6 separate regions of the Homo sapiens genome follow, and all the other regions are reported to be linked to region 1. The links are microRNA targets in miRTarBase. Many come from high-throughput screens and were not tested one by one. Region 1 holds a microRNA gene; each other region holds the end of a gene's coding sequence.

Region 1 (5,250 bases):
ACCTCCACGTCCTGGGTTCAAGCGATTCTCCTGTCTCAGCCTCCTGAGTAGCTGGGCTTACAGGCGCACGCCACTGCACCCAGCTAATTTTTGTATTTTTAGTACAGACGGGGTTTCATCATGTTGGTCAGGCTGGTCTCGAACTCCTGACCTCAGGTGATCCACTCGCCTTGGCCTCCCAAAGTGCTGGTATTACAGGCGTGAGCCACTGCACCCAGCCTTTTTGGTTATTTTTAATAAATGCTTTTAAAATAAATAAATGTATGCCCCTTTCCCTCAGCGAGCCTGTCCCGGGGCCTGGACTCACCTCGCGGATGGCGTTAGAGGACAGTGCTCCAGGCAGGTCCTGCTTATTAGCAAAGATGAGGAGGGTTGCTCCGGCCAGGCGCTGGGGGAGAAAAGATAGAGGGGTGGGGTGGGGACTCAGAGGACAGCCTGACCCCTCCTCTAATGGCCCAGAGCATCTGGGGTGAAGGATCGACCTGGAAGATCAAGGTGAGGCCCCGTGGTGGTGGGAGAGGCCCAGGAGTGAGTTTGTGGACGTAGCCATCAAGGCTGGCCCACATGAATGGAGCAGCCCTGGGCCAGGGTTCTGGTTCCAGCCAACCACCACCCAGGGGACACCGCTGTCCCCATGCTCCAGCTTCCTCTTCCATGAACAGGGAGGGGTGTTGCATAAGATGATCCCTGAGCTCTCCGTGGTTCTAGACTGCTCCAATCTGATGACCAGACATGCACAGAGGATGTGAACTCTCCCTCTTCTGGGTTCACACAGCCCTTTAACCGTTCCACTCCCGACAGGCCTCACTGTCCACCTCTGATTCTAGTTGTTTCCACATATGTGTCTGTGATTGGGAGAGATGTGGGTGGACGGGTCTAACCCTTGGGCCTTGACCTGCCTTGACCAGCATTTGACGGCCCTGATCTCATCTGACCTGCTCCACCCACATAGGAGATGTGTGCGGTGTGCCCAGGACAGTCCCCACTCTGCCTGCAGAATCCCCCCTTTCACTCTCACAAGTGTCCTCATTTTCAACTAAATGCAATTTTGTAGCCTGAATCAAACATTGGAACACAAAAAGTATATTAGTGGAAAAACGTGAAATTCAAATAAAATCTGTAATTAAGATAATAGTAATTCACCAGTGTTGATTTATTAGTTTGGACAGGCCACGGTTAGGTAAGATGGGGAAGCAAGGTAAAGGGTATATGGGGGACCTCTGACCTCTGTACTATCTTTGCAAGTGTCCTTCTTTTTTTTTTTTGAGACGGAGTCTCACTCTGTTGCCCAGGCTGGAGTGCAGTGGCACAATCTCGGCTCACTGCAAGCTCCGCCTCCCAGGTTCACGCCATTTTCCTGCCTCAGCCTCCTGAGTAGCTGGGACTACAGGCGCCCGCCACCATGCCTGGCTAATTTTTTGTATTTTTAGTAGACACGGGGTTTCACCATGTTAGCCAGGACGGTCTCGATCTCCTGACCTCGTGATCCGCCCGCTTCAGCCTCCCAAAGTGCTGGGATTACAGGCGTGAGCCACCGCACCTGGCCCCTTCCTTTTTTTTTTTTTTTGAGACAGGGTCTTGCTCTGTCGCCCAGGAGGCTGGAGTGCAGTGGCACGATCACAGCTCACTGCAGCCTCAACCTCCTGGGCTCAACTGATCCTCCTGTCTGAGCCTCCAGAGTAGCTAGGACTATAGGTGCGTGCCACCACCCCCAGCTGAGGTCACACAGCAAAGAGTCAGACTCTTGAGCCAGGCTCCATGGCCTCTCGAAGCTTCATACTGGCCTTGGGTTATCCTCCCTAAAGCCCAGTGATGTGGGTGTCATCATCACCATTTCAAGGCATAGAAACTGATGCTCAGGGTAGTGACGTAGTAACACCACAGGGACGTTAACTCAATCTCAGTCCACAGCATGTGTCCTGCCTCTGGCACCATGGGCCTCCCATGGTGGGGGCCCAGAGAAGGAAGGGATCCTGCCTCTGGTTTCCCTCTGGGGCCACGGGCCCCTCTGGGCATCTGCTGAGAAGGCAGCCACACGTCCATACATGTACACAAAGGGTAGGAGCTGCCCACCTCCTCCACCAGCAGGCTCTGGAGCTCCCGCTGGCAGTCCTGCATGCGCTGGCGGTCTGCGCTGTCCACTACCCAGATGAGGCCATCGGTGCTCTCAAAGTAGTTCCGCCAGTAGGACCGCAGGGACTTCTGGCCACCCACATCCCAGATGTTCAGCTTGAATCTGGGCAAGGAGCGGGTGACAGGAGGGTCAGCTGGGCCCCTCTCCCACCTTCCCTGCCCTGCTCTGGGCTGGCCCTCCCATGGGGCCCCTGCTCACCCTCGGTGCTCCAGGGTCTTGATGTTGAAGCCCAGCGTTGGGGAGATGGTGTCGATGTCCTCCCCATTGAACTTCTTCAGGATGGTTGTCTTTCCAGCATTGTCCAGGCCACTGGGGCGCAGCAGGTTAAGGAGAAGTCCCTGTTCTCTGCCAGGTGGTGACATTGTTGCAGAGCCCCTTAGGGGACTCATTATTTCCCACCATGTATCAAACTGAGTTGAGCACATGCCTGACCATAATCGGCCCACAATAAATATGAAAGTATCAAATTATAAATATCATCTCTACTGACCAAAGGCTCCTTAATTTGTTGAACACCTACTATGTGCCAGACCCTCTTCTGGGTGCTAGAGGACAAAGCCCTGCCCTTAGGAAGCTTACACTCTAGCGGGAAGACAGTCAATAAAGTACAAACAAATGAGAAAAGAAGGCCCTGCCAGATCCCGGCTAGCGCCATCAACACAACAGAGAGGCTTTCCAAGAGGGCCATCGGAGGAGGCTCTTTCAGCTCAGGTGCCGGGGAAGGCCTCTCTGAGGTGTCTGGAGCTGAGACCCAAAATACAAGGAGCAAGCTTTTTGAAGAACTAAGGTAAGAACAAATATCTGGAGGCAGCCACCCTCATTTGTTTCTGGAATATTCCAGACCTGCTACTGCACAGTGCAAATTAATGGGTGTGCTTACCTGTGGAAGGAACCACCCTCCTCTATCTTCCCAACACTGCAGCTCAGTTGGGCATGGTGGGGTGGGCGGGTCCTGGACTCGACCACCTTTCCCTGCTCATCGGAGCTGGGGCAAATGACCTAGGCCCAGGAGAGGGGTGAGGAGGGCATTTCCCCTGAGGCCCAGCCTTAGCCCCTGGAACCTAGCCGCTGATGACCCCCTGCCCCCAAGCCATCATCCATGTTTCCTTCCCCTCTTGATCATTCCCACTGGCTGATGAGCTTGCCGTTCTTTCTCCCACCTTAAAAAGAGCAAATAGGCCGGGCGCGGTGGCTCACACCTGTAATCCCAGCACTTTGGGAGGCCAAGGTGGGTGGATCATCTGAGGTCAGGAGTTCGAAACCAGCCTGACCAACAAGGTGAAACCCCATCTCTACTAAAACTACAAAAATCAGCCAGGCGTGGTGGCGGGCCCCTATAGTCCCAGCTACTCGGGAGGCTGAGACAGGAGAATTGCTTGAACCCGGCAGGCAGAGGTTGCAATGAGCCGAGATCACACCACTGTACTCCAGCCTGGGCGACTCAGCGAGACCCCGTCTGATTAAAAAAAAAAAAAGAGCAAACAAAGCCCTTGATCTCTCTGCCCCATCTAGTTATTCATTTATATCTTTCCTTTTACAGGAAATCTCAAAATAGTTGTTTGTGCTCACCCCCATTTCTGCCTTCTTGCTCTTTCAAGAACACACTCCCATCAGGCTTTTGCTGCTGCTGTGGCCAAAACTGTCCTTACCAAGGTCAGTCCCCAAAGACCTCCCTGTGGCCCTCTAGTGCTGGGACAGCGCTCAGTCATCTTCTGTTCCCCACTCAGCACCTGATGGAGTGGCTCACCCTCCTCCCCAGCACATGCGCTGCCCTTGGCACTGGGACACACCCTCACCTGGTTCTGCTCCTCACCTGACTTCATCCTGGTACAACCGGGTTCTCTTCTCTGGCCACGCTCATCCCTGGGTGACCTCATCCAGGATCACAGCTTCAAATACCATCTCTATCCTGATAACACCCAAATGTGCACCTCCCACACACTGGACCTCAGTGCCTACATCCAGCTGCCTGCCTGACACTTCTGGGCTGTCTCGGAGGCATCTCACATGGCACACACAGGCACACACAGGGTTCTCATCTCCACCCTGAACCTGCTCCTCCCCCAGTCCTCTCCATCTCAGCAAATGGTTCCTCACCCTTCTAATTGCTCAGGCCAGAAACTTCCATGACCTCACTACTTCCATCCTGGTCCAAGCCACCATCCTATCTCGCCTGCGTCACTGCAGTGGCCTAACTGGTCTGCGATTCCTTCTCTCCACTGCACTTCTCACTGAAAGGGAAAACCAAAAACCAAAAGGCCCTAGGTGAGGGGGTTCCCAGTCAACGCTCCTCCTCCCCACTCCAGCCATACTGCCCTCCTCACCAGTCCTCTGAACACGCCAGTTAGTCCTCCCAGGGCCTCTGACTTGCTGTTCCCTTTGCTTTAAAGTTTCCCCCCCCCCCGAATTGCTATATGGTTCAACCCTCGCCTCCCTCATGTACTCAATTGTCATTTTTTTTTTTTTTAACAGAGTTTCGCTCTTGTCACCCAGGCTGGACTGCAATGGCGTGATCTCAGCTCACTGCAGTCTCCGCCTCCCGGGTTCTGGCAATTCTCTTGCCTCAGCCTCCCAGGTAGCTGGGATTAAAGGTGTCCACCACCACATCCAGCTAATTTTTGTATTTTCAGTAGAGACGGGATTTCACCATGTTGGCCAGACTGGTCTCAAAACTCCTGACATCAGGCGATCCATCCGCCCCGGCCTTTCAAAGTGCTGGGATTACAGGCATGAGCCACTGCGCCCTGCCATCATACAGTGGCCTTCTTTGACCACCCTAAATTGCATTATTCTCCATACCTATATACGTAGTGGGAGTTCATCCTGGAGCAGTATAAGGCCCTGTTCCCCAGAAGCATGGTCCAAAGCATGGCCCATATATATATAGTATGTATGGAGAATATATATATGTATAAATAGAGACAGAGTCTCACTATGTTGCCCAGGCTGGTCTCAAACACCTGGGCTCAAGCGAACCTCCCACCTCAGCCTCCCAAAGTGCTAGGGTTACAGGTGTGTGCCACCGCACCCAGCCTCTATTACATATTTTACTTACTTCCTGTGTTATCATCTTTCTACCCGCGGGCAACCCCCCCGCCACACACACACACACGCAT
Region 2 (5,250 bases), not on the chromosome of region 1:
GAGCTCAAATTCACAGCTCATGTGTGACTCTGGGAAGGGTCCTCACAGTGTCCCTGATCCTGCTCTTATTAAAGGAGCCAGGGAGGGGTCCCACAGTGCATCCCAGCCCTGGGGACCCTGGGGCCATGATTGCTCCATGCTGCATTCCCAAGCACAGTGGGAGAGGAAGGGCCCCATTTTCCTCGCAGACTGTGGCTGAGGGCTGAGTTGGAGACACGCCTCCTCTGGGTTGGGAGGTGGGTGCACACAGCTATTGAGCCCTAGATCCTGTGCATGTGGTTGGGATCAGGCAGGTCAACTGGCCTCAGCCTTGCCTCTCTCCCTCCAGTCCTGTTACGAGCACATCCAGAAAGAAGACATGAGGCTGCACCGCTTACCTGGCCACTGGCACTCCAGGGAGCTCTGGTAGCCTGGCCTTTCCTGGACAGACTGAAGAGCTGAGCAGGGCACTGCCAGCCTGTCCCTCATTACCCAAGGCAAGGGGCAGGACAGGCCCTCAGAAGCAGCTCTTGGAGGAGATGAGCATTTTGTTTTGCACAGGAAGATGCTGCTGCTGCCCTGACTGGGATGAGGGTGAGGGGTGACGGGTGTGGCCCTGGATGTGGTGGTTTTCCCTTGGCCACTAGCCCATCTTCAATGACCCCTTAATCTGCAGCAGCTCACAGGCTGGGGGTGAGGAGTCCCTGGCTTCTCTTAGCCTGAGCCTTTCTCCCAAGTTCCAGAGCCTCTCCGGGCCTCAGTGCTGCCATCTGTACAATGGTGGAGTGAGTACGCTGTAAAGGACCTTCCATTCATTTTGCTGAATTCCAGAGTCCTTTTGGAAAACTGACTTTAGTCTGCTGGGCTGTATTGACCTCTGGCAGGCTCGAAGCCTCACTGGGTATGCAGTCAACAGGATGGGCCTGGAGATCCGTGAACTGCAGGCCACGTACCCATGACGTAAACGGCGGCACTGGAGCAAGCTGGGGCGGGGGGTGGGTAAACCCTCACTGCCAGCAGGCCCCAAGTGGCTTGTAAATCATTCTCCTGTGATGTCTGTGGGCCTGCGTGGGGACAACAGGGGCACATGACATCTGCCTGGGCCCTGACCAATAAACCCTCAGACCCAGGACCCAGGACCCTGCTGTAGTTGGGGAGCAGGAGTACCTTTGGGAGGGGAGGACTTTATTTAAACAGTGGTTCTAGTGTGGGACCAAGAGAGGCAGGAGCTGGGTCTTGGGGCAGCTTTATTCCTGTTGGGCCTCAGTTTCTCTTCCCCACACAGTTTATCTTCCGTCACATTGTGCCGGGTGACGTGCACGGTCTCCCTCTGCCCTAGCCGGAGATGCATGATGACAGGCAGTGTGATGTGTTCTGAAAGTGTCCAGGGCAAAGCGTAGGGAGAGGGTGGATTTGTGCAGGGTGCAGCTCTGGAGAAGAAGCTGGATCACTCTTGGTCCCATTCCCTAGGCCCTGAGCAAGTCAGGCTCCTGGCTCTGGGTGTGGCTCCCCCAAACGAAGTACTGACTTCAGCCTGTGAGGGGAGGGTTGAGGGAGGCTCTGGAAAGCCCAGCCACACCTGAGTCCCTGGCAGTAGCCTTGGGGCAGAGGGCACCCGCAGAGTCCCAGAGATGATGTGGGCAGTGGGCAGAGAGAGCCTTGGCGCCTCTGTTTGCCACCACTTCCCCAGGAAGGAGGGACAGCATTTCTCTGGCTGGTTCCACTAAATGTGCCAGCCCAAATGCAGGGCATGGGCTCTGGTTCTGCCAGGAGCCTGTGACACCCCCAGGAAGGGGGTGGAACTGAGGAAGAGCGAGGATATGCAGGCACTCATGCTTACCGGGACTGGGGCAGCTCACTAGGATTCTATCCTTTCCAATCGGCATCAGCCAGCTCTTGTCCCCTGATAAGTGAGGACAGCCTGACCCTGGCCTCAAATGCAGCCATCCCTGAGTTCATGCGATGCTGACGGGACCCCAGCACACTTCCCTGCCTCCTTTGAGATCTGCGAGCCCTTGCTGCAGTTCAGATTCAACAAGGCCCTCTGCCCACCCTCTCACTAGGCCTCACCCAACACCAGTGGAACTGGAGCCTCTGGCTGGGCACAGTGGCTCACTTTGGGAGGCTGAGGCAGGAAGGCTGCTGGAAACTGAGAGTTCAAGACCAGCCTGGGCAACATAGTGAGACCCTGTCTCTACAAATACAAAATAAAATAATTAGCTGGGTGTGTTGGTGTGTGCCTGTGGTCCCAGCTACTCGGGAGGCTGAGGTGGGAAGATCCCTGAGCCTGGAGGGTCGAGGTTGCAGTGAGCGGAGATCGCACCTCTGCACTCAATCCTGGGTGACAAAATGAAACCCTGCCTCAAAAATAAAAATAAAAATAAAAATAAAATAAATAAAAAAGAGCATCTGGACAGAGCCTAGGGGGCTGCAGTGTTTTAAAAGGGTCCTGGAAGAGTCCAAGGGCAGACAGAGCTATATCAGACCCTTACAACGAAACCCACAGAGCAGGCAGGCAGGCAGGAGTCCTTGCTGTAGATGAGCCTGACCACTGCAGTGAGTGCTTCATGCACAGAAGACCCACCCAGTCCACATTCCAGGGTGACCTCTCCCAGCTGCTGCAGGAGCCCCTGGCTGCCCAGAGAGCCTGCTGGTGCCCAGTCTCTGGATGGCAGGGTTGGCCAGCAGGGACCCTAGCACCTCAGTGATCTCACTGATGTTCAGAGCAGCCTGGCAGGGCCTAGCTCCAGTCCCTCCACCATTCTAGTTCCCACCTCTTTCCCGGGATGAGGATTCTCTCTTCAGTGGTGATCTTGAGGAAGTGCTAAGATTCTTCCTAATAATCCCAAATGGCACTTCACAATCACCTGGGACAGAGTGGAGAGAGGCACAGGGAGACACGGCCCATTCACGGACTCAGGCAGTTTCCTCTCCTGTAAGGGCTGAGTCCCAGGCTACAGTGGGACTCAAACACATTGGCCTTGCCCTCGGGGGCCAGGACGTGGGGCTGAGAATGACAGATACCCAAGGGGCCAAAGGCCTTTTCAGTGAGCAGATGTGTCCAGGTTGCACAGCCGGACCACCTGCTTATCCTAGACGGCAGCCCTGGCCCTGGACAACCGCCCCACCCACAACTGCACCCGGGCCTGCATGCAGTCAATCATACAACCTCTAGTCCTGCTTCCCCCAGGCCCACTACTCCCTTCACCAGTCAACTCCATCTGCCACCCTGTTCTGCCCTGCCCTCCTGCTCCTGCCCCTCTCACTCATCTCTTTTCTTGCAGAAATGCCCTCCTCCAGTCCCACTAGGTCCTAGGCAGATCCATCCTTGCAGGCCTAGGTCATATGAAGCCCCTGTTCCCCTAGGAAGAAGGCTTCTCTCTTCACAGCCCCTTTCCAGACCTGGGCCCATGTTTCATTGCTTTGGCGGGGGCTCTCTTGCCTCCAAAGTCAACAGTCCTCTGTGGTGTCTTCTTCCCATCCTTCCCCCGGGCACAGTGCAGGCCGCCTCGCCAGGGGCCTGTGCTCCACAGCAGTTGGGGACGAGGACAGAATACAGGTTGACACGGGAGGGGTTGGACTCTGAAGGGCCTGACCCCCAGAGTAGGTCAGCATCTCAGACTGGCTGGAGAAGCATCCGTGCAAACAACCCCTCTGGTGTGTCCAGGATGGACGGGCCCCAGGGAAATGGAGCCCCGGGCAAACACAGGCCAGGAGTAGACAGCAAGTTGATGCTGATGCCTCAGGAGAAGGGGAAGAAAAGATGGACACCCTCTGTGCCTTGCTCCATAGTCACACACGGCACCAGAGGCTCAGGCCTGGCCCTCCTGGGGCCGTGTGCCCACACCAGGCAGCTATGATGCCAGTGTGGCAGGACACCTCCAGGCACTGCCCTACTGCTTGGTTGGAGCTCCAGCTGCAGGAAAGCCACAGAGTGGCGTGGCCAGGCTATAGCCAGTGACCCAGAGGTAGTGGTGGATGGAGAGGGCGTTCTGAAAGGGACCAGGGCACAGCATGGCCCCATGAAGTCCTCTGAAGGGACTGCTGACTTCTTTGTCAGCGAGCCTCCCCAGGGGCCTCCTGGATGGCAGCCCTGTTCCCTGTCTGGAGTATGGTCTGGAACAGCTGCCCCACAGTGGGAGCTGGCAGGCATCTGAGGGACCCGAGTGCTGACCAAGCCTCTGTTCATTCACACCACCCCCGAGGATGCTGGAGCCAGTGCGTGAGCAGGGTGCCCACTGTGCATGCCCCTTGCCTACTGCAGCTCCAGAGAAGGCTGGAGGGATGCTGAGGCCAGAGGGGTGACCAGGGGCTGCTGGAGAGGTGCTTAGTGTCACTGTGTGAGTGAAGCAGATGCTCACTAGTAGGGCCCTAAGGAGGGCCCCAGGACCTCAGCTGTCACTCTCCCAGAGGGACGGCTGACCACTGGGGCCCAGCAGGGGACAGGGGCTGCCCTCTTATGGGCACCTGGGAAAGGATAAGGCGAGGGTCTGGGTTAAAGTCAGTGTGAGGGATACAATTAGGGATTAGGGTTGAAGTCAGGGTCAGTGTCAAGTTAGATTTAGGGACTGGAGTGAGAATGAGGGTCAAGGTCAAGCTCAGATCGGGTCAGGGCTTTTCTGGTTGGCTTTGTCAAGGGTTGTACAGACACGTACTCTGGTGTTTACTCTTGCTGCGGGCGAGAACCTGGGATGGGGTCCAGGCTGCCAGGTCTTGGTCTCTCTGGGACCTTGGCCAAGTCCTTTTCCTAACTGGGTCCTGTTTGTTGTCTGTAAGCAAAGGAGCTGCCCAGACACCCTGTTCTGCCATGAGGAGCACCCTTTGCTGTGAAGGGCAGGCAAGAGATGCCGCTTGGGCTCTGGATGCACTGAAGAGGACCCACGTGCGGGCTAAGCACTTTATGGGCTTTATCTCAACTTCCTCATGACCAAAGCCCCAGGAGTCACAACCCAGGAAACCTAGGCCCTCAGGAGCAAGCAGAAACACACACTCTGTCCCCAATAAACAGGGGGCTGAGTAGCTATGATGGACTGGACCCACACGGCCTCATACCAGAGCCCAGGTGCCAGCTGGGTGACTGCACGACTCCAGCACTACCAGGTGCAGAGCTGGAGCCCAGGTGTTTGGCCACCTGTCCCTGTTCCTTGCCTTCAAGACAGGCAAGTTTCTCCCAAAGTGATCTTCTCATATGCCCCCTGGCTGAGGCCTGGCCCCTCATGTCCAAAAGTATTTGGGAGGAGGTGGAAATGAGGGAGTGCGGTCTAGTCATCA
Region 3 (5,250 bases), not on the chromosome of region 1:
AGATGATCCTCATCACCACCAAAGGGGAGGGGGCAGCCTTAGCTGAGCCTCTATGGGCAGAATGCCTCTGAGGGGCCGGGCACTGCAGCTCACACCTGTAATCCTAGCACTTTTGGAGGCTGAGGTGGGCAGATTGCCTGAGCTCAGGAGTTTGAGAGCAGCCTGGGTAACATGACGAAACTCCTCGACTAAAAATACAAAAAATTAGCTGGCGTGGTGGTGCGCACCTGTAATCCCAGCTACTCGGGAGGCTGAGGCACAAGAATTGCTTGAACCTGGGAGGCAGAGGTTGCAGTGAGCTGAGATTGTGCCACTGTACTCCAGCCTGGTCGTCAGATTGAGAATCTGTCTCAAAAAAAAAAAAGAAGGCCTCTGAGGGCCTCCTAGCCTGGCACTAGGCCTGTAGTTGGTGCATAGGAAACACAGGGCCTTGTGGTGGCCCCAAGACTCTTCTGCTGGTGGGGTTAGGTTCAAACTTGGGTTGTTCTGGAACCCAGAGGAGATTTTCTTGCCTGAGGCTGCTTTTAGAAGTGCTCTCTCCTTCCGTTGGAAAGAAAGGTGTTTGTTTTTGCCTGGGAGGGGACTGCTTTGTGTGAAATTTCCTCCTGAGAGAGCTCTGTGGCTTTCAAGGTTTGAGTTCCTTGTTCCTGGCCCCGAATGACTTCAGCAGGGCAGGTTGGGGCCTTTGGGACCTGCCTAGCTGTTGTAGAGAACTTGGCCTTTGCCTTATCAGTCTGGGAGGGTCTGGCCAAGTGTACTGGTTTCCCGCAGATGGGCCATACAGCACAGGACAGAGAGGGCAGGCTTCAGGGTGGCTCATGTTGCCTTGTCACTTCCTCACTGACCACAGACAAGTTACTTAACATGGTTTGTTCCTGTTTCCTTGTCCATAAGACGGGAGTCATAATATTTAATATTTACCTAGTTGTGTTGTTAGTGGAATAAATGAGACAGCAAATGTCAAGTGTTTAGTGCAGTGCTTAGCACTAGTATGTGCTTAATAAACACGGGCCTTGTTATTATCGGTGACCTCTTGGGGCTTGATTAGCCTTGGACTCGGAGAATACGCAGGCTGAGCCCAGCCCTTGCCCCTGCTCTGCCTTCCTGAGCATGGCTGTGTGGAATAGCAGAAGGGCCCCCGCTGGAGATGTGGGGGTGCTTTCCAACTGCGCTCTGCCAGCTTTGAGGCTCTGGGCAAGCACTTCCACTCTGGGAGCTTCAGCTTCCTCCTGAGTAAGATGGGCCTGGCAGTGCTGGGCTCGCACAGCTGCCGGGTTGGATGAGAGAGTGGCTGTGGTGTCATAAACCAGGGAGCCCCTTAGTGTGTGCCGTGAAGCCAAACTCGGTCCCATTGTCCCCCTCCTGGAGTGCAGCCAAGTGGACAGACAGGGCTCGAGGTTCCTCCATTCAGCAGACGTTTACCAGGCACCCAGCTTCATACTTAGACTCGTGCTAGGCGCTGGGGACACAGCCATGAACAGGACGGTCTAAATTCCTGCCTCGGAGCCTCAGTTTCACGAGCTGAAACAGAGTTAATGTCTGTGAAGACTGAAGCAGATCCTGCATGGAAGGCACCCAGCTCGTATTTGGCACTCAGAAGGGGTGGCCGGGCTTCATCCAGCTCCACTGGCACCTCCGAAGTGCTGTTGCTCTCTCATTTCCAGTTCCCTGTTCGTCAGAGGCTGACCGAAGACTCCTTCCAGTGTGAAATCCTTCTGGCCTGGCGAGGCGCCCACTTCGCGTGGGCTGGTGCCGGCCGCTGGAACCAGCTGGGTGGGGCCTGTGCCTGCCCCCTGAGCCTGTCTCCCCCCTCCTCAACCCTAGATTTACTGTCAGAACCTGTGTCTGCTGGCCAAGCTTTTCCTGGACCATAAGACACTGTACTTTGACGTGGAGCCGTTCGTCTTTTACATCCTGACTGAGGTGGACCGGCAGGGGGCCCACATTGTTGGCTACTTCTCCAAGGTGCTGGGTCTGGAAACTCGGGGTGGGGAGGGTGGGGAGGGCGAAGGTGGGCATGAACAGAGAGTGGGGCAGAGCCTCCCCAGCGGCCCTGAGCACCTGCCTCCTGCAGGAGAAGGAGTCCCCGGATGGAAACAATGTGGCCTGCATCCTGACCTTGCCCCCCTACCAACGCCGCGGCTACGGGAAGTTCCTCATCGCTTTCAGTGAGTGGTTCCTGGCCTGTCTGGGAGGGGGAGACCTGTGGGGCAGGGGTGCCAGGGCAGGCTGGATCCTAAGTTCCTCTTTCTACTGCTGCCAGGTTATGAGCTCTCCAAGCTGGAGAGCACAGTCGGCTCCCCGGAGAAGCCACTGTCTGACCTGGGCAAGCTCAGCTACCGCAGCTACTGGTCCTGGGTGCTGCTAGAGATCCTGCGGGACTTCCGGGGCACACTGTCCATCAAGGACCTCAGGTGAGGGGGCCTCCCGGGCCCTGGGGGCAGGACTTGCCCTGAGATGGGCCACGATCCTGCTTCCTCATACCCTGTCACCATCCTGGCCAGATCCCACAAGGGCACCAGGTCTGGCATTTGCTCTCATCCCTTTTTGCAGCCAGATGACCAGTATCACCCAAAATGACATCATCAGTACCCTGCAATCCCTCAATATGGTCAAGTACTGGAAGGGCCAGCACGTGATCTGTGTCACACCCAAGCTGGTGGAGGAGCACCTCAAAAGTGCCCAGTATAAGAAACCACCCATCACAGGTGGGTGGGGGGCTGCTGTGTGTCGGGGGCGGTGGGGGAGTGTCAGTATATGGACTGGTAGGAGTCAAGGCCTCCTTATTGCTGTCACATGATCCCAAACCAGTCAGACCAGCTCCCAGGATGGAGCCCGGGGCAGGCCTCTCATTCCTGGGCTTCCCTACCCCTCCCCAGCACAGCCTGCCCTTTTGTTCTCACCTGGAGGAGGTGAAACTGGCCTGAGCCCAGAGGAGGGCAGCCAGGTGTGAGCTGGCCTGGCCCAGGCCCAGCCCTGCCTCCCGCCCCTTCTCCCCACAGTGGACTCCGTCTGCCTCAAGTGGGCACCCCCCAAGCACAAGCAAGTCAAGCTCTCCAAGAAGTGAGCAGCCTGGCCCCTGCTGTCGGACCTGAGCCTCCTGGCTCCCAGCCTGTAAATATGTATAGACCTGTTTTGTCATTTTTTTAATAAAGTCAGTTCTGGTGGCCCTGGACTTTGGAGGGGAAGGGGAGGCCAAGAGCGGATGTTCTTCATTTCACTTCACACATGCACGGCAAGTTGTGCTCAAACATTTTAATCATTTCTGCCCTGTTACTCCCACCCCAGATCCAAGCGCCAGCCCAGTTCCGGTGGGGGCTCAGTCCTCCGGAGTCCAGGAGTCAGGGCTCGGGGGCGCTCAGCGGCCAGTGGGCAAGATTGGGGCCTTTCCTGTCCTCGAAGCTGCACAAAGGTGGCCCCAGCCCAGAACACAGGGAGAGGGCAGAGAGATGTGCTCATCAGTCTGGGCAGGCGGGCCGGGAGCAGTCTTCCAGAAACAGGTGGGAGCCAGGGCTCATTTTCATAGCCAAGGGTCCCAGGAGCTCCCCAGGAGCTCGGCCAATGGGCTGGTCCATGGTGGGTGAGGGGCCAGAGGCTCTGGCCATTGCTACAGGCAGTAAAACTCCTGACTCTCAGTGATGGTCCCAAAAAGCACACCCAGAAGAATGGGCTCAAAGATCAAGATGGGGCCCCAGCCTCCCGCAGAGTCCTGAAGGAAGGAGTGGCTCAAGTCAGGCCCTGGGTCCAAAGGCCATCAGGGAAGGACCAGGCTCCTGTCCTTGAGTGTGATGCATCCATCCTGGAAGTAGGGCCAGCTCAGTGCTCGCTGAGCCATGGGGAGAGGAGGCCCAGAGCCAGGCCCAGAGGCAGGAAAAGGATGGGCCTCAGCAAGCCCTGGGCTGGGGCAGAGCTGAAGGCCAGGTGGCTGCCACAGAGGTTGCTGTCGGGCTGGGACTCCTGGGTTTGGGGCACCACACGAGGCTGGAGTTCTGTCACCTTGCTTTGGATCCAGGAGGCATAGCTGGAGGCCAGAGTGTACACACCAGGCCTGTTGCGGGCCCCACAGGCATCTCCCCAGCTCACAATGCCCGTCAGGTACCAGAGACCCTCCACAGGGCAGGAGAGTGGGCCCCCAGAGTCACCCTGAGGAGAGAAGCCACACAGCAGCCATCAGGACCGGGCCAGGCCTCCTTTCCGAAGTTGCACTGGTCATCTGCCCCCCGGGCCTGTGCTTACCTGGCAGGCGTCCTTGCCCCCCTCCACATAGCCAGCACACACCATGTCCTCTTGGACAAAGTGCGGCTCCTCAGGCTTGGCGTCGATGTTGTACAGGCAGTTACACGTCTCACGACTGATCAGAGGCACCTCGAGTTGCTGCAGTGGCTTGGGCGTCAGGAGGCTCACTGTGGGGGTAAAAGAGGCTTACCCTGGGCCCCTCCCCAAGTCAGGTGCCCCTCCACACCTCTAGGCACCCAGCGTCCCACCTCACCTGAGGGGGCCACATGACCCCAGCCAGTGACAGTGCAGTGGAGGCCGTTGGGGAAGGAGGCGTTGGCTGCAGGGAGGCAGATGGGCCGGATGTAGCGGGAGAAGGTGATGGGTCTGCTGAGTTGGAGGAGTGCAATGTCGCCCTGGGAGCCCTCCTGGAGGTAGCTGGGGTGGGGGATGATGTCCTTCAGGGTGCTGACCTTGGCGTCCTCGGAGTAGGAGTCTAGCTGGTGGGCCCCCAGCTTGACCTCATAGGCTTCCTTGTGGTGCTCGCTGCAGGCAGGGGGCAAAGGCTGAGACCCAGGAGACCTCTCCTTGTTCCCCAACCCCCACTGCCAACCCCTGATTCCGATCAGCCCCTTTTAGGTCTCAAATTGCACCTTAGTTTTATCATGTAACCTCTGACCCCTCACCTTCACTCCTAACTGGTCCTTCCAGACTTAGAACTGACACTCTCAGACCCAACCCAAGAACCCCAACCTCTGACCTGGATTGACCCATTAACTTTGACCTCCAGCCCACTTTTGACTTTCACCATTTGGTACCTGGGGAAGCAGTGAGCAGCTGACAGCACCCACTGCTCAGACACGAGAGAGCCACCACACACATGGACGCCTTCATAGGTGATGCTGACCTGCCAGGGCCACTGACCGGCGACTGCACTGCTGCCACCTGTGATGCGTGCTTGGGGGGCCACACCGCAGGGAGCTGCCCAGGGAGGAAGGGAAGGGGTCAGGTTGTTAGCCTGGCCACTCCTATGCA
Region 4 (3,000 bases), not on the chromosome of region 1:
CTCTCTTTGTGATTTAAAGTTTTTTTTATTAGTCTGAAATCTTCATTGAATGCAATTGTACTGCAATTTAATGTAACTTTTAACCTTTTTCTCCTGCCCCTACCTCAGCCAATAGCTTTTAGTCTGTTTGACACCTCAAGATGAAAAACTCTTTGAAAGGACTGAAAAGATGTTATTATATTCTCATCATAAACAAACAATAGGGATGTGGAGAGGATCTATACTCTCCTGAAATAGGTCTTTGTGTTTGAGAGTTCTTTATGTAAAATGTTTTGTGGTAATAATCTCACTATGGTATATAGAGGTAATTATCAATTGTTTTTAATTACTTGAATTAGTACTTGAACTTTATATGGAGATGATTTACATTATATGTGCATATAGTTTAAATCTTTAAATAATGAGAGTTTTTCATTGTAATTCTTTTTGTGTGTGTGTGTTTTTTTTTTTTCAGGAGAGAAATAGAAACAAACAATAACCGTATGAAGATGTCCTGTTAAATTTACAACACTAACGATGTAGACTCTGGAAATGCCTAATAAGTCAAAGAAGACGTATTAAAGCTCTTTTCTGCTTAAGGTGACATCTTTGAACACTTTAACACAAAGTTGACTCTTCTCGTAATGGTTTTCATCAGCGCATCTGCCCTTATACTCTTCACCAAACACACTTGAGAACTGTAACTTCGTCAAGCACTTTCTGTCCTGAAGCTTTTACCAGTATCTGCTGTCTTTTGTAATTATGCATCCTAGCTAAGGCACAGAAGACTGAATGAATGCAAGGATTCATTAACTCTTTGAATTTGTTAAATACTAACAGTTAACCATTAGAAGTGGTTCAATGATGTAAGAGTCACACTGCTTCAACTTTTTCTTTGTTGTAGTTTTTAAATTGTCGATTTTTAGCTATTTGACAGATTAAAAGCAAAATAATCATGCCATATTTAGTCCTGGAGTTCAAGTCTAAATGTTGATGTGAAAAATTATTGTAGTAAACTTTTAATATGGCAAAGCAACCTTAAGCTCTATTTTAGCCAAATGAAACATAATCTGAAATTATATTAGAACATTTCCCTTGTCTTCAAACTGTTTGGTGTAACAGAATATTGATATGCAGCTTGGTGGATTTCACCAGTTAATGCACATTCTTCTTCCCTCCTCCCCCCATTAATATGTATACTGAAAAATGTGCATTTGTCTGAGGAATTATTTTGTTTGCTACCACTTAATGAATCTCAAAATTTTGAGTAAATGTACCTCAGTCTAATCAGACTTTTTATGACCTTTATAACTACATTTAAAACCCTTAATTCCTATTTCTGGGTGTTTGCGAGCCTGATTGCTATCATGAAGTAAAAATTTATTACTCTAGGTATTCACTAGCTAAATAAACATAGTTCTTGTTTAGCAAGCATATGTTGTTCCTCAGCTCTTTTCTCCAGCTTTTGCAGTGTCCTGGCATCCTTAAAATACTTTGAAAATATGGCCTTGATCCATGGATTAAATCAGTATCTAAGTGAATGTGTTGATGTTTTATTGATCAGATCTATATAAGTGGGAATACAGCATATATCTGGATATTCTTATAGTTATCTTTTTAACATCTTATTTTTTTCATTAATTACATATCAACATTAATTTTGTATCTTGAAGCAAATTGATTTTGTATAATTAAATGTGTCAAGCATCTGTATTAATTGATTTGATGGCATAAGGTTATGAAAATAATGTACTGCCCCATGTATTACTGTTCCAAAAGGAGAAAGCTATGTAGAAAGATACATTAAGGGTGAAAATAGCAATACAGTAGATTTGAATACCTTGATGTTTTGCATTACTTCATTTATGTTTACATCATGTTTAGAAATGTTTTCATTTACTGTGGTCTTTGGTCACTTCAGCTCAAAGACCTAGTGATGGATATTTCTTTGAGGCTTTCATTTATATAATTTTATTTTGTACAATGTTTTTTTTAAATGTGCAAATACTGTATTCAAGTGAAAAAAATACAGTATTTGTAGATAACCATAGCTACTACACAGTTCTTCGGTAGTCCCAGTGTAGTTATATCAGTGTTTACTGAAGGGAACATCAAAATATTAATGGTATATTATAAAATAAAGACTTTCTTAAAGGAAAATTGCACCTATTTTACCTTTTTAAGAGTAAGCCATGAAATCTTGTAACATGTCTCTTAACTATTTATAATGAAAAGTGGCATTTGGGTATAGTCACCACAGCAATGTTCTACATCCCTAAGATTATCTAGGTAGGACATGTCAAAGATGACTGTTGTCATTCTGGAGGTCCTATTAGAGAATATTATAAAAGGGTGACCTTGTAGGAAGGATCTGAGTCCTCCCCCTGAGGTTCTCTTTTTCTTGGTGCTTTATTAGCAACTCTGGATATTTTTATAAAACTAGTTACATTATAAACGGTTTCAAACATGTTTAATTTACATTAGGTTTTTATGTAAGAGTGTCATGGAAGCACTCAGCAAGCAGGCTGATTGCAATAGACTCAGACATGCGAATAAATGTAATTGAGAGTCTATTCATGGTGAGGAGTACATCCCAGTGCCTTTAACCTGGATTTCTAATCTTAAGTGAAATGGGTGCAGCATTCCTTTGGAAAAAAAAATCTTTTTATTTTCAAGTGATAATTTTGTGTTTTTCTCATATAAGTTTTCTCCAGAGCACCCACCTTCTCTTCCTTCTTGGTCTGTCATTATATTGCAAAATATTTTTCCTCTGAATGAAATTATCACAGGTTGTCTCAAGCACAACCAACTGAATGTCTCTTAACTGTGGGGACCAAAAGGGAGAGAGCCTGGGGTCTACAAGAGGAGACACATCATCAAATGTTTGAATGATCACAAATTAAGACATTATCAGCCCAGTAAATTTCTTGCTTAATGTTTTTCCAAGTTCTGGCTTGAATATTTCTTATTAAAGCTATCTTATGTGGGTATTTTATTTTGAAAGGTATTATAGTTTGTATA
Region 5 (3,000 bases), not on the chromosome of region 1:
GAGGAAACAGGCCCAGAGAGGCCAAGAGGCTTGTTCAGTGTCACAGAGTAGCGGAGCCCTGGTGACTCCGGGGCTCCCAGCTTGCCCTCTGCCTACTGGGGTGTGCCACCAGGCAGCTGGGGAACCCTCACACTGGGCACCTCCTCCCACTGTTTACCTTCTTCTCCTTCCTGCTCCTGCCTGCCTCAACCTACCGTGGGCCAGGCTTTATTCTCCCCACTTCTCCGGTGGGGAAGCTGAGGCCCAGGGAGGGCAGGGGGCTCACTGAGGGTCAAACAGCAGGCGAGTTGATGCCTAGGTTTGGCACTCCTGCCCGACACCCTGGTGGCTTGCGGAGGTCAGCCTGGGAACACCCTGGGGTGGTGTGTGGGTGGGGGCTGGGTCCTCAACCCAGGCCTGCCTCTTGCTCCCGGCCTCACTGCCGTCTCCCCCTCCCCACCTGTCTTTATTCTCTTTGCAGCAGAAGACCCCCTGCTGCGCCCAGCCGGCCCACCATTATCCGCCCAGCCGAGCCATCCCTGCTCGACTAGGCCTCGAGGGGGGCGTGCTCTCGGGGGGGCCTCACGCACCCGCGGCGCAGGAGCTTCAGTGGTCTGGGGCCCTCCGCCGCCCCTATGCTGGGACCAGGCTCCCAGTGGGCAGCCCTGGCCTCTTCCTTAACGCTGGCCCCGGTCCAGGGCCGGCCCCTGTGCCTGGCTGGACACCGCACTGCGCAAAGGGGCCCTGGAGCTCCAGGCAGGGGGCGCTGGGGTGTTGCACTTTGGGGGATGGAGTCTCAGGGTGGCAGAGGGGGGACCAGAACCCTTGACACCATCCTGAATGAGGGGTCCAGCCTGGGGGGGACTCTACCAAGGTCTTCTTGGGCTGGGAAAGCCCATGTAGGGCAGGCCTTCTATAAGTGCGGGCACCAAGGGCGCCTACATCCCCAGGCCTTGCTGGGGTGCAGGGGTATATCAACTTCCCATTAGCAGGAGCTCCCCAGCGGCAAGCCTGGCCCAGTGGGCTCGGTAGTGCCCAGCTGGCAGGCCTGAGGTGTACATAGTCCTTCCCGGCCATATTAACCACACAGCCTGAGCCTGGCCCAGCCTCGGCTGCCAGAGGTGCCTTTGCTAGGCCCGGAGCCGTTGGCCCGGGCCGGCCTTGCCCTATTCCTCTCCTCCTCCTCCTCCTGGGTCCCCCAGGGTGGCTGGGCTTGGGCTATGTGGGTGGTGGTGGCGGGGGGTCTTGGGGGCCTCTCAGCTCCCGCCCATGCCTCCCTGATGGGTGGGCCCAGGGCGGCCTCTCTCTGAGGAGACCTCACCCACTCCTCGCTCAGTTTGACCACTGTAAGTGCCTGCACTCTGTATTCTATTAATAAACTAAAATAAAGGGAAGACGCTGCTGGTGGCTGCTGTGTGGGCCTCTTGTGTTAGTGTTCAGGCTGGGGACATGGGTGCCACCTCCATCAGGCCTCCCATAAGGATGCCCAAGTCCCTGCACTCATAAGTGCCTCCCATCTCCCTGAGGGCTCTGCTTTCGGGGGTGTCACCTTTCAGAGGAAGCCACTCGATACAGGGGAGAGCTTTTACTTTCCTTAGCATGTGAGGAGTGGGAGCAGATATTCTCTGACCCCCTGCACACCCCCACGTGCACAGGCCTGGCTGCTGCCTGGTGAAGCGGGGACCCCAGCGCTCCACCCCCTTCCTACCCTCAGGCCCTGCTTCTCTCACCTCGTGGGGAAGCCCAAGCCTCGTGGCCCAACTGGGGCTCAGTTAAACTTTGCTTTCTGATTTTTCTCTTGTGCCAGGCGACCACCTCCATCGGCTCCCGCACGACCTTTCTTCTGAGCTTCGTGGGAGGCCCCTCCCACCTGTCTGGCTGCCCCCTCGGGGGCCGGTCTGTCCTGGCTGGTGTCCCTGAGCCCCAATCAGCAGGCTCTTGTGATTTTCTGACCATAATTTATTGACTCCAATGCCCAGGCCACACCACCCTTTGTTATAGGAGGCTTCTGCCTAGACTTTGGCCGGGCCATCCCTCATGCCTGTGTGGGGCCCCTGCAGGAGAGGGGCCGGGGCAGGTGGTCTTCCAGGCCCCCTTCCTGGCATTCTGTTACCAGACCTCAACCTGGCTTGGAGGGCCCAGGTTTCCTTGTTAGGCCCTGCCCCGCACCAGGCAACGCTAACACAGGATGGGAGGCTTAGGCTAAGGCACATTTACAGTAGAGGGGCCAGGAAATCCGAGGCTCACGTTCCAACGCTGCAGTGCCCACCATGTGAGATTTCCAGGACCGTCGGTGCAGCCACTGAGCCGTCCCTTCTACAAGCCAGAGGTGTTCCCTGCCCGCTGAGGACGGAAGGAGACTCATGGGGCCAGACCGCAGGCCCTGACTGCACACTCCCGTTTTGGCAGGAAACTAAAATTGGGGAGGGACCCCCAAGTCTCATATGCACACACCCTGCTGCCCCTCCTTTGTCCCGTTCTTCCTTCCATGGCAGGGGCTACGTGGGCACCGGGCGCTTGTCCTGGAAGAAGCGCTTGAGCGTGCAGACCTGCAGCACAGCCACCAGCAGCAGCACCGCCACGTTGACAGCTGACCAGAAGTTGACCCGCTCCAAGTTGCCCTCTTGCAGGTTGCGGTCACGTGCCTCGAAGGCCCGCAGTAGCGTGAGCATCTGGATGCTGCGCTCCAGCCGGGTCCGCATGGTCTCAATGGACTCCTACAGGGCAGCGGGAGGGGAAGGGTCAGGCCTCCCTCCACCCATCAGGGAGCAGAGACCAAAAAAACCGGGGGATACGGAGGGAGGCTGTATTAACCCTGGGAGGTACAGCTGCAAACACAGACTTGTTCAGGCTAAGTTCAAATCCTCACCCTGCCACTCACTGGCTGTGACCATGAGCAACTTAATTAACCTATCTGAGCCTGTTTCCTCTTCTATAAGCTTCCAAATTGCTGTGAACATTTAATGCCTAAATAAATGTACAAGGATGAGCATGGTGGCTCATGCCTATAATCCTAGCACT
Region 6 (3,000 bases), not on the chromosome of region 1:
TGGGTAAGAAGCACCACTTAAACCAAATCCACATGAGCCAAAGCTTGCTGCCAACACCACTTCTCCATCTGCATGCACCACCTTTCAAACAGGAATAATCTCAAGGTCGGGGTATTTTTCAAGTCTCAAAAATTATCTTTTTACAAAAAAATCAGAGTAAGAACTCATTTCTTGTCATTGCCCAAAGCTGATTCTCTTGCTTTTTATTTCTTGAATGGCATAAGCCACGTCAAAGGGCTAAAAATGCATTTCAAGCCCCAGCTGAAAACCAACTGGAGAGAGTGAGGCAAAGAGAGAAAAGGAGAGAACACAAACTTGTTGCTGGGAGTAGAGGCTGCCACCTGCTCCCTATGGACATTTGCAAATGCTGGTGAATGACTGGACCCTCCAGGAATAGTGCCCTGATCCTAGCCCCAAAATGTATCCAAGTGGAGAACATGCAGAGCCCACTGTCCCAGGAGAACTCCCCTCCCCAAAGGGTGACAGAACACGAAGTAGACTGTATATGAAGGCAATGGACAGGGCAGATGGAGTGTTAGCATCACTCTCTTTAGGCACTTGTGTAAGGAATGTAGGCTCTCCAGTGAGCTGCCTCCTCCCAGAGCCCTCCATTCTGTTCTTCAGCTGGGCTTGTGCCTATAGGGCACCCCATGCTGTAGCCAGCAGGAAAAAAGTAAAGGAGGAGTTACTCAACAGTCCTGATGCTTTCTCCATAATGAATGTTTGTGCTACGTTTTGTGAGTTGCTGAACAATGTAGCCAACCAGAACAGAACCTGGGATAGATTGTTTTGCATAGCAAATCCGGGTCATACAAGGGCAGCTAAGGGGAGGAAATGGTAGTTCTAACTCTACAGGCCAGGATTTAGACCCTTCTTCCTCCAGCTGGCCTCCAAGCCTGGGCTAGGTCTAAAGTAATCATGGCTTCATCACCAGATCAGGATAGATCCAAGCCCAGGCTCCTCAAAGAGGAAATTCCACACTGAAGTTGCAACTCCCCATCCCAAGCAGTGGGGCAGGAAAAAAATGAACAGTCAAGGAAAAAGGGCAGGGGGGATGCTTGCTTCAAGGCCAACAGAGACCAAGCTAGAACCACCACCTTCTCCAGTCCTGCAAGACAGCCAAACCCCATGTCTCAAGACAAAAAAAAAAAAAAAAAAAAGTCCATGCCACCCACCCACATGCCCTAGTGGGAAACCAGGAAAAATTCATTTTTGTAAACAGAAGCAATAGGGAGCAGCAAAATTCCCCAGCCTGTCCACAGGACACACTGCAATCTAGGATGAGCCAAAGGGTCAGAGGACAGTCCAGGGGAAGGAAAAAGATGCACTTGCAAGAAAGAGTGCAGGACAGTGCAGAGGAGGGAGGCTATAGCAAGAAAAAGGTATTATCTGCACAGAGGAAGGATGGAGCCTGGACCCCATCTTGGGGCGATAACCACCCCCTCCCTACCTAGCCAGGTCAGAGAACAAATCAGGTACACAGTTCATTCTGATGGCTCAATGTTTCTGGGATATAAACTCATCAGGCATGGGAAGGATTTCCAAATTTTGGCAATACACTCAAGTTATGGTATAAAAATAACATTTTGTTTTCTCTCTTTTTTCTCATTTTAGACCTAAGAGTTTTTTGTTATAAGACACCCCAGTTAAGAAATATTGAAACATAAGAGACTTGACCATCAAGGGAGAAAAGAAGCCAAGAGTGAAAAATGCTATGAAAGTAACTCCAGACCTGGGCGGGGCGGGAGGTAGGAGGAATAAGGAGAAAAGGAGGCATAAGTGGAAAGGCCAGGGGCCTGTCATCTCAGCAGCTCCGAGACTTGTCATGTTTGAAAGTGCAAATGTCAATGGATTTTAACCATCTTGAGGTTGTGATCTTTTAAAAAGCTCAATGAATGAGGAAGTCAATTCCTTCAAATGCAAAATAGCTGGCTTTCTGGCTGGAGGTTTGTTGGGTCTGGGGTATTTCTTCCCCATCTACCTCCTCTCCCACCCCCACCCCATTCCCCAAAGAAAGGTACAAAAGGTTGCAGTTCTGCAGCATTACCGTTACAGGGAAGGCACTGGTTACCCACCAGCGGGCGGAAGGAAGACAGGGTCGTGTCACTTCAAAGCTAAGTGCCATAGTGCCTTAAGTATTACTAGGGGCTGGATGTCTGTCAGGGAGGAGAAGTAAGGTGGGGCAGAAAATGTGGACAGAGAGGAATAAGGGTAAGGTGGGGGGTGGCAGCTGGGGGAGGAGCAACCAAAACCATTAAAAAATCTTCCTACAAACTGGATTCTGAACCCATTAAAACATCTAGTATCCTAAAATATTGATCTGGGTCTGGTTTCATTTTTCTTCTTAAACAAATCTAGTCCTTTTCTGATTAAGGCTCCTAAAAAATCCTTCCCTCCTCCCACCCACTTTCTCAAGCCCCTCACTTTCCCATCTAAAGTATCAAACCCAAACCTAACCAGCTTTTGTCTGCAGGGCTACAGAGTTGACCTTACCAAGCTGTCAAGCATGAGTCTTTAGCACTGTGAGTCACATGAGACACCTGTGTGTATGGTGGGCACCAGTGCTGCCCCTTTTGGTCCAGTGGGGTCAGGGCCAGATGTGACAAGATGGGGTGAGGGGTGGGGGACATGAGGTTGATATCAGAGATTTCTGGCTGGTGGTCTGTCTTGCTGGCCCTGTTCCCCACTCTTACACCACCTCTATAGAAGGAAACAAGGCATCCTACACTCCTCCCTACCCCACCTCCCTCCTCCTTGCTTCCTCTGGATTTGGGTGGCACAGCTCCTGGGGCTTGGAAAGCTTTCTTCTATCCAGTGAGGTAACAGCGTTCTGCCTTCAAGCGAAGTACATGGTGCGCAGAGTATCCTGGTGAACCTGCACGGCTTTGGCCAGGGCCTGGGGGTCCCGCCCATTGCTCTGCCCCGATATGTGGCTCCCCTCTCCACTGAAAAGGAAAAAATGAAAGAAGTCCTTCCTGGTGAACTGAGAGCTGCTGCTAA

Evidence for each region. Region 1 holds the annotated microRNA hsa-miR-6879-5p (CAGGGCAGGGAAGGUGGGAGAG, at 2,276-2,297, opposite strand). A microRNA usually pairs through its seed, bases 2 to 8, with sites in the 3' UTR of a target mRNA and lowers its output. Matches are read on the target gene's strand: a 7mer-m8 pairs with bases 2 to 8, a 7mer-A1 pairs with bases 2 to 7 and ends in A, and an 8mer does both.
Region 2: the mRNA of ALS2CL is a reported target of hsa-miR-6879-5p. Seed matches in the 3' UTR shown: 7mer-m8 at 554-560 and 8mer at 1,310-1,317.
Region 3: the mRNA of PRSS8 is a reported target of hsa-miR-6879-5p. Seed matches in the 3' UTR shown: 7mer-m8 at 3,439-3,445.
Region 4: the mRNA of YTHDF3 is a reported target of hsa-miR-6879-5p. Seed matches in the 3' UTR shown: 7mer-m8 at 643-649.
Region 5: miRTarBase lists DNM2 as a target of hsa-miR-6879-5p. Seed matches in the 3' UTR shown: 7mer-A1 at 1,142-1,148.
Region 6: the mRNA of AGO1 is a reported target of hsa-miR-6879-5p. Seed matches in the 3' UTR shown: 7mer-m8 at 1,043-1,049, 7mer-m8 at 815-821, 7mer-A1 at 640-646 and 7mer-m8 at 521-527.

The regions. Positions count from the first base shown.
Region 1 is chr11:65,015,557-65,020,806 of GRCh38, reverse strand. It overlaps MIR6879 (microRNA 6879), which reads right to left and starts at 2,302; the gene lies at 2,237-2,302. ARL2 (ARF like GTPase 2) reads right to left here. Exons shown (of 5, transcript NM_001667.4): 2 at 2,333-2,443; 3 at 2,074-2,236; 4 at 308-388. ARL2-SNX15 (ARL2-SNX15 readthrough (NMD candidate)) reads right to left here. Exons shown (of 11, transcript NR_037650.2): 2 at 2,333-2,443; 3 at 2,074-2,236.
Region 2 is chr3:46,666,143-46,671,392 of GRCh38, reverse strand. ALS2CL (ALS2 C-terminal like) reads left to right here. Exons shown (of 26, transcript NM_147129.5): 26 at 329-2,398. The coding sequence ends at 409. Among named protein-coding and RNA genes, the nearest start is that of ALS2CL, 25 kb to the left of the region's middle.
Region 3 is chr16:31,128,193-31,133,442 of GRCh38, forward strand. It overlaps PRSS8 (serine protease 8), which reads right to left. Exons shown (of 6, transcript NM_002773.5): 3 at 5,034-5,196; 4 at 4,490-4,761; 5 at 4,237-4,403; 6 at 3,241-4,143. The coding sequence ends at 3,817. KAT8 (lysine acetyltransferase 8) reads left to right here. Exons shown (of 11, transcript NM_032188.3): 7 at 1,825-1,965; 8 at 2,075-2,168; 9 at 2,264-2,414; 10 at 2,554-2,708; 11 at 3,003-3,167. The coding sequence ends at 3,067. Among named protein-coding and RNA genes, the nearest start is that of PRSS8, 4.9 kb to the right of the region's middle. RefSeq lists enhancers at 912-1,859, 1,860-2,807, 3,756-4,701.
Region 4 is chr8:63,209,229-63,212,228 of GRCh38, forward strand. It overlaps YTHDF3 (YTH N6-methyladenosine RNA binding protein F3), which reads left to right. Exons shown (of 5, transcript NM_152758.6): 5 at 455-3,000. The coding sequence ends at 478. Among named protein-coding and RNA genes, the nearest start is that of YTHDF3, 42 kb to the left of the region's middle.
Region 5 is chr19:10,830,518-10,833,517 of GRCh38, forward strand. It overlaps DNM2 (dynamin 2), which reads left to right. Exons shown (of 21, transcript NM_001005361.3): 21 at 461-1,386. The coding sequence ends at 530. TMED1 (transmembrane p24 trafficking protein 1) reads right to left here. Exons shown (of 4, transcript NM_006858.4): 4 at 1,550-2,696. The coding sequence ends at 2,478. Among named protein-coding and RNA genes, the nearest start is that of MIR6793, 3.0 kb to the left of the region's middle.
Region 6 is chr1:35,919,444-35,922,443 of GRCh38, reverse strand. It overlaps AGO1 (argonaute RISC component 1), which reads right to left. Exons shown (of 19, transcript NM_012199.5): 19 at 1-2,945. The coding sequence ends at 2,837. Among named protein-coding and RNA genes, the nearest start is that of AGO3, 10 kb to the left of the region's middle.